Regions from separate parts of the Homo sapiens genome. Here region 2 is linked to region 1. The links come from fine-mapping of genetic effects on gene expression. A gene starts in region 1. The other region holds a variant in brackets. All regions are shown on one strand. Distances are from middle to middle.

What was found.
Region 2: its variant is fine-mapped to the expression of CCDC18 in neutrophils (BLUEPRINT, PIP 0.95).

The regions. Positions count from the first base shown.
Region 1 is chr1:93,179,489-93,182,401 of GRCh38, reverse strand. It overlaps CCDC18 (coiled-coil domain containing 18), which reads right to left and starts at 1,678. Exons shown (of 29, transcript NM_001378204.1): 1 at 1,550-1,678. TMED5 (transmembrane p24 trafficking protein 5) reads left to right here and starts at 1,989. Exons shown (of 4, transcript NM_016040.5): 1 at 1,989-2,348. The coding sequence starts at 2,160. RefSeq lists enhancers at 1,379-1,588, 2,459-2,608 and a silencer at 1,649-1,928.
Region 2 is chr1:94,138,381-94,141,293 of GRCh38, reverse strand. No RefSeq gene overlaps it. Among named protein-coding and RNA genes, the nearest start is that of ABCA4, 19 kb to the right of the region's middle. The variant C/T (reference allele first, on the strand shown) is at 1,197.

The DNA.
Region 1 (2,913 bases):
GCATTACGTTCAGGACCGCAATGTACTTAGAGAAGCTCAATATTTTGAATGAATTAACGAATACTAAACTGTCCTTCCTTCCCTCATCCAGTTAGAATGGTATGTTACATTTATTCCCCACTCAAAAATTCTCAGATGTAGGGAGGAAGATTAAAAAGAAAACTCCCACCTTATGGAAAGAAAGTGGCAGGAAATTAAATGAGATACTATGTAATCTTAATAGACAAACTGGTTCTATCCTCTTTCCCTTTTTTGTTTCCACAAATTTGCTTCTGCTTAAGTGACAAGACTCTCGCAGACAAGTCAATAAATCAGGTCCCCATCCTGCTTTACCTATTCAACATCTCTAGCTCTCTGTAGGATGGTGAAGGAGAAAAGGGTAGAGAAAATTGGGCAAATTCTATAATACCATTTGGTACTATATATTTCATCTTAAATCAGGTTTTAGTTCAACATCTGTGTATTGCCATGCAAGAAATAACTCCCAGTCCGGGCGCGGTGGCTCACGCCGGTAATCCCAGCACTTTGGGAGGTCAAGGCGGGTGGATCACGAGGTCAAAAGTTAAAGACCAACCTGGCCAAGATGGTGAAACCCCGTATCTACTAAAAATACAAAAAAATTAGCCGGGGGTGGTGGCGAGCGCCTGTAATCTCAGCTACTCGGGAGGCTGAGGCAGAGAATTGCTTGAACCTGGGAGGCGGAGGTTGCAGTGAGCCGAGATCGCGCCACTGCACTCCAGCCTGGGCGACAGAGTGAGACTCGGTCTCAAAAAAAAAAGAAAGAACTCCCTAACTCTTCTGCAGTAGCAATGAATATATTTGATACTAAAATGTTTTCATTTTCCTAGTGGGACATTTACTGTCAAATGAATGTCCTTAACTTCAATTTACAGTAGTTACCCAAAAAAGGCTATCTTCACTGACTATGCATACCTAGAAAAGCACATCATCCTACTCACCGACCTTAACAACATCATCTTTCGGCCCTAATTAACAATGTGTTTGTAGGTTTGCACACGCACACCCATCAAACGAAGGACAAGTGTTCTTTTATACCCTATGTATGTGATACAATGGGCTGTAGTCGAAAAAGATTCCTCATTTTGGAAAGAAGTCATAACTTTATGTAGTAGTCTCCTGTCTCAAGATCGCTTGACACAGCTAATCTTACATCCGTCTGAAAGAAGCGGGGGCGGGGGTGGGGGACGGAAGTGACAGTTTCCTCTTTTTTTTTTTTTTTTTAATTTTATAGAGACAGTGGCTCGCCATATTGCCAAGGCTGGCCTCGAACTCCTGGGCTCAAGCAATCCTTCCGCCTCGACATCCCAAAGTGCTGAGGTAACAGGCGTAAGCCACTGCGCCCGGCCTCCTATTTTTCATCAAATAAAATACAACCGTTCAGAGCAGCATGCTCAGCAACCACGAGGACCAGTCCCAGCGCATCCAAGGTGCCGGGAGGGAAAGGAACAGAACTCCCCCAGGTAAGCCGGTTTCCCCACGCCAAGGCGCAGTCGCTCACCACCCAAATCGTCGCTGGGGAGAGACCCACCCGGCGACTGCGCGCTTCGCACTCGAGTCTGCGTTAGGAAGCCTCTGACCCTTTCCCGGGCCCCTGCGCGTGGAAGCCTCGGACACAACTCGGAGAACCAGCGAACCCCGGCAGCACAGAATTCGAACCGCCGCGGGAGCCGTTGGGACGCGCCTACCCGGTCACTGCCCCGCCCCGGCGCAGACTGCGTGAGGCGCCGCCGAAGGCGCGGGGCTTGCCGGGGATCGTGGTCGGCGAGCGCGCCCGAGCCCACTAGCGGAGCCCGCCCGGGACTACATTTCCCACAATTACCGCCATGATGCCCATTGGTGGGGGAAGCCATGGGAACCGGAGGCCGTCAGGGGGAGAGGCGGGCGGCGCTCACGCCTGGCCTGAGGGGGCCGAGACTGAGGCGGTTGCGGAATAGGACTGCTAGCCCCGCCCAGAGTCCCTACCCTTTGGAGAACTGCGCTTCTCTTTCGGAGGGAGTGTTCGCCGCCGCCGCGGCCGCCACCTGGAGTTTCTTCAGACTCCAGATTTCCCTGTCAACCACGAGGAGTCCAGAGAGGAAACGCGGAGCGGAGACAACAGTACCTGACGCCTCTTTCAGCCCGGGATCGCCCCAGCAGGGATGGGCGACAAGATCTGGCTGCCCTTCCCCGTGCTCCTTCTGGCCGCTCTGCCTCCGGTGCTGCTGCCTGGGGCGGCCGGCTTCACACCTTCCCTCGATAGCGACTTCACCTTTACCCTTCCCGCCGGCCAGAAGGAGTGCTTCTACCAGCCCATGCCCCTGAAGGCCTCGCTGGAGATCGAGTACCAAGTAAGTGCGGAGGATAAACCAGCCTCCTTCCTTTAACCCAGCTGCACTGCGTTGTCGCCTCTCACCCGTTTAGAAACTTCTGGTGGACGGCCCTGGTGGTGAAGAGGCGAGGGCCGTTCAGGAAGCCAGCCCGCTCCGCGCAGGCGCGCGAGGCGAGGCGAGGCTCTCGCTGGGGCCGGGGACCCAGAACTTAGGCTGGACCTGGAATTGATGACTACCCGCCTTCTCCCCTTTCCTCCGGTGGGAAGGAGGCCAGAACTGGTGATGTCGCTGGCTTTTCTCTTTGTTTCCTAATTCGCCCACTGCTTTTCTTAGCCACTACACGCTCTCATACTGAGAATTTCACAATGCAGAACTGATACACGTTCTCCTTCATCATTGGACAAGGTGATGACACTTGTTTGAATCACCCCCACCCCTTTCACACAGTTCAGATGTTACAAATCACTGTCTTTGCTTCAGTTAAGGGTTTTTGGATTATGATCGTGTAATTGGCATTAAGCCCGATTTTGAAATTTTTTGGAAGACGCTGTTGCTATATTTAATGATACATTTCCGTTTAAGT
Region 2 (2,913 bases), 960 kb before region 1:
GAAGATGGACCTCCATCTTAAAAGTTCAATCATGTCATCAATGATTTCAAGACATGAAGTAGTAAATTCATCAACAGTCAACATTTCTTATCAAAGTAATAATACCACCATTTAACACTTCCTTTAGACTGAGCACCGTGATAAGTGCTTCCTTTCATATAATCTCATTTAATCACAGCCCTCTGATGTAGGGGTTCTCAACAACCACTATTAACAATTCTATGCAACAGATATTATTATTCTCACTTTACGTATAATAAAACTGATAAAAATGGAATTTTTAAAAGCTTTCCCCATTTTGTATACCTCATAAGCAGTAGAATAGGGTTCAAAACATAGGTGTAGCGCCTGGTGGAGTGGTTCACATCTGTAATCCAAGCACTTTGGGGGGCCAAAGCAGGAGGATCGCTTAAGTTCAGAGGCCAGCCTGGGCAACATAGTGAGACTTAGGCGCAGTGGCATGTGCCTGTAGTCTTGGCTGAGATGGGAGGATCACATGAGCCCAGGAGGTCAGGGGTACTGTGAGCCATGATTGTACCACTGCACTCCAGCCTGGGTGACAGAGTAAGATCTTGTCTCTAAAATAAATAAATAAATACCAAGTGTGTCTGACTCTAAAGCTTATGTTCTTAACCACTGTATTAGTCTGTTCTTACGCTGCTGATAAAGACATACCCGAGACTGGGTAATTTATAAAGGAAAAGTTTTAATGGACTCACAGTTCCACATGGCTGGGGAGGCCTCACAATCATGGTGGAAGGCACAGGAGAAGCAAAAACACGTCTTACACGGTGGCAGGCAAGAGAAGTACCAAAGCAAAAGGGGAAAAAGCCCCTTATAAAACCATCAGATCTCGTGAAAACTCACTATCATGAGAACAGCACGAGGGTAACCACCCCTATGATTAAATTACCTCCCACTGGGTCCCTCCCACAACACATGGGGATTATGGGAACTACAGTTCAAGATGAGATTTGGGTGGAGACACAGCCAAACCATATTGACCACCAAAATCTTTTTTTTTTTAGTTAATTAATTTATTTATTTTAATTATACTTTAAGTTTTAGGGTACATGTGCACAACGTGCAGATTTGTTACATATGTATACCTGTGCCATGTTGCTTGCTGCACCCATTAACTCATCATCCAACATTAGGTATATCTCCTAATGCTATCCCTCCCCCCTTCCCCCACC[C/T]GACGACAGGCCCTGGTGTGTGATGTTCCCCTTCCTGTGTCCATGTGTTCCCACTGTTCAATTCCCACCTGTGAGTGAGAACATGCGGTGTTTGGTTTTTGTCCTTGCGATAGTTTGCTGAGAATGATGGTTTCCAGCTTCATCCATGTCCCTACAAAGTACATGAACTCATTTTTTATGGCTGCATAGTATTCCATGGTGTATATGTGCCACATTTTCTTAATCCAGTCTATCATTGTTGGACATTTGGGTTGGTTCCAAGTCTTTGCTGTTGTGAATAGTGCCACAATAAACATACATGTGCATGCGTCTTTAAAGCAGCATGTTTTATAATCCTTTGGGTATATACCCAGTAATGGGATGGCTGCGTCAAATGGTATTTCTAGTTCTAGATCCCTGAGGAATCACCATACTGACTTCCACAATGGTTGAACTAGTTCACAGTCCCACCAACAGTGTAAAAGCATTCCTGTTTCTCCACATCCTCTCCAGGACCTGTTGTTTCCTGACTTCAATGATCGCCATTCTAACTGGTGTGAGATGGTATCTCACTGTGGTTTTGACTTGCATTTCTCTGATGACCAGTGATGATGAGCATCTTTTCATGTGTCTTTTGGCTGCATAAATGTCTTCTTTTGAGAAGTGTCTGTTCACACCCTTCGCCTACTTTTTGATGGGGTTGTTTGTTTTTTTCTTGTAAATTTGTTTGAATTCATTGTAGATTCTGTATATTAGCCCTTTGTCAGAAGAGTAGATTGCAAAAATTTTCTCCCATTCTGTAGGTTGCATGTTCGCTCTGATGGTAGTTTCTTTGGCTGTGCAGAAACTCTTTAGTTTAATTAGATCCTCTTTGTCTATTTTGGCTTTTGTTGTCATTGCTTTTGGTGTTTTAGACATGAAGTCCTTGCCCATGCCTATGGCCTGAATGATATTGCCTAGGTTTCCTTCTAGGGTTTTTATGGTTTTAGGTACTACATTTAAGTCTTTAATCCATCCTGAGTTAATTTTTGTATAAGGTGTAAGGAAGGGATCCAGTTTCAGCTTTCTACATATGGCTAGCCAGTTTTCCCAGCACCATTTGTTAAATAGGGAATCCTTTCCCCATTTCTTGTTTTTGTCAGGTTTGTCAAAGATCAGATAGTTGTAGATGTGTGGTGTTATTTCTGAGGGCTCTGTTCTGTTCCATTGGTCTATATCTCTGCTTTGGTACCAAAACAGTATCATGCTGTTTTGGTTACTGTAGCCTTGTAGTATAGTTTGAAGTCAGCTGGCATGATGCCTCCAGCTTTGTTCTTTTGGCTTAGGATTGACTTGGCAATGCGGGCTCTTTTTTGGTTCCATATGAACTTTAAAGTAGTTTTTTCCAATTCTGTGAAGAAAGTCATTGGTAACTTGATGGGGATGGCATTGAATCTATAAATTACCTCGGGCAGTATGGCCGTTTTCATGATATTGATTCTTCCTGCCCATGAGCGTGGAATGTTCTTCCATTTGTTTGTATCCTCTTTTATTTCATTGAGCAGTGGTTTGTAGTTCTCCTTGAAGAGGTCCTTCACGTCCCTTGTAAGTTGGATTCCTAGGTATTTTATTCTTTTTGAAGCAATTGTGAATGGGAGTTCACTCATGATTTGGCTCTCTGTTTGTCTGTTATTTGTGTATAAGAATGCTTGTGATCTTTGCACACTGATTTTGTATCCTGAGACTTTGCTGAAGTTGC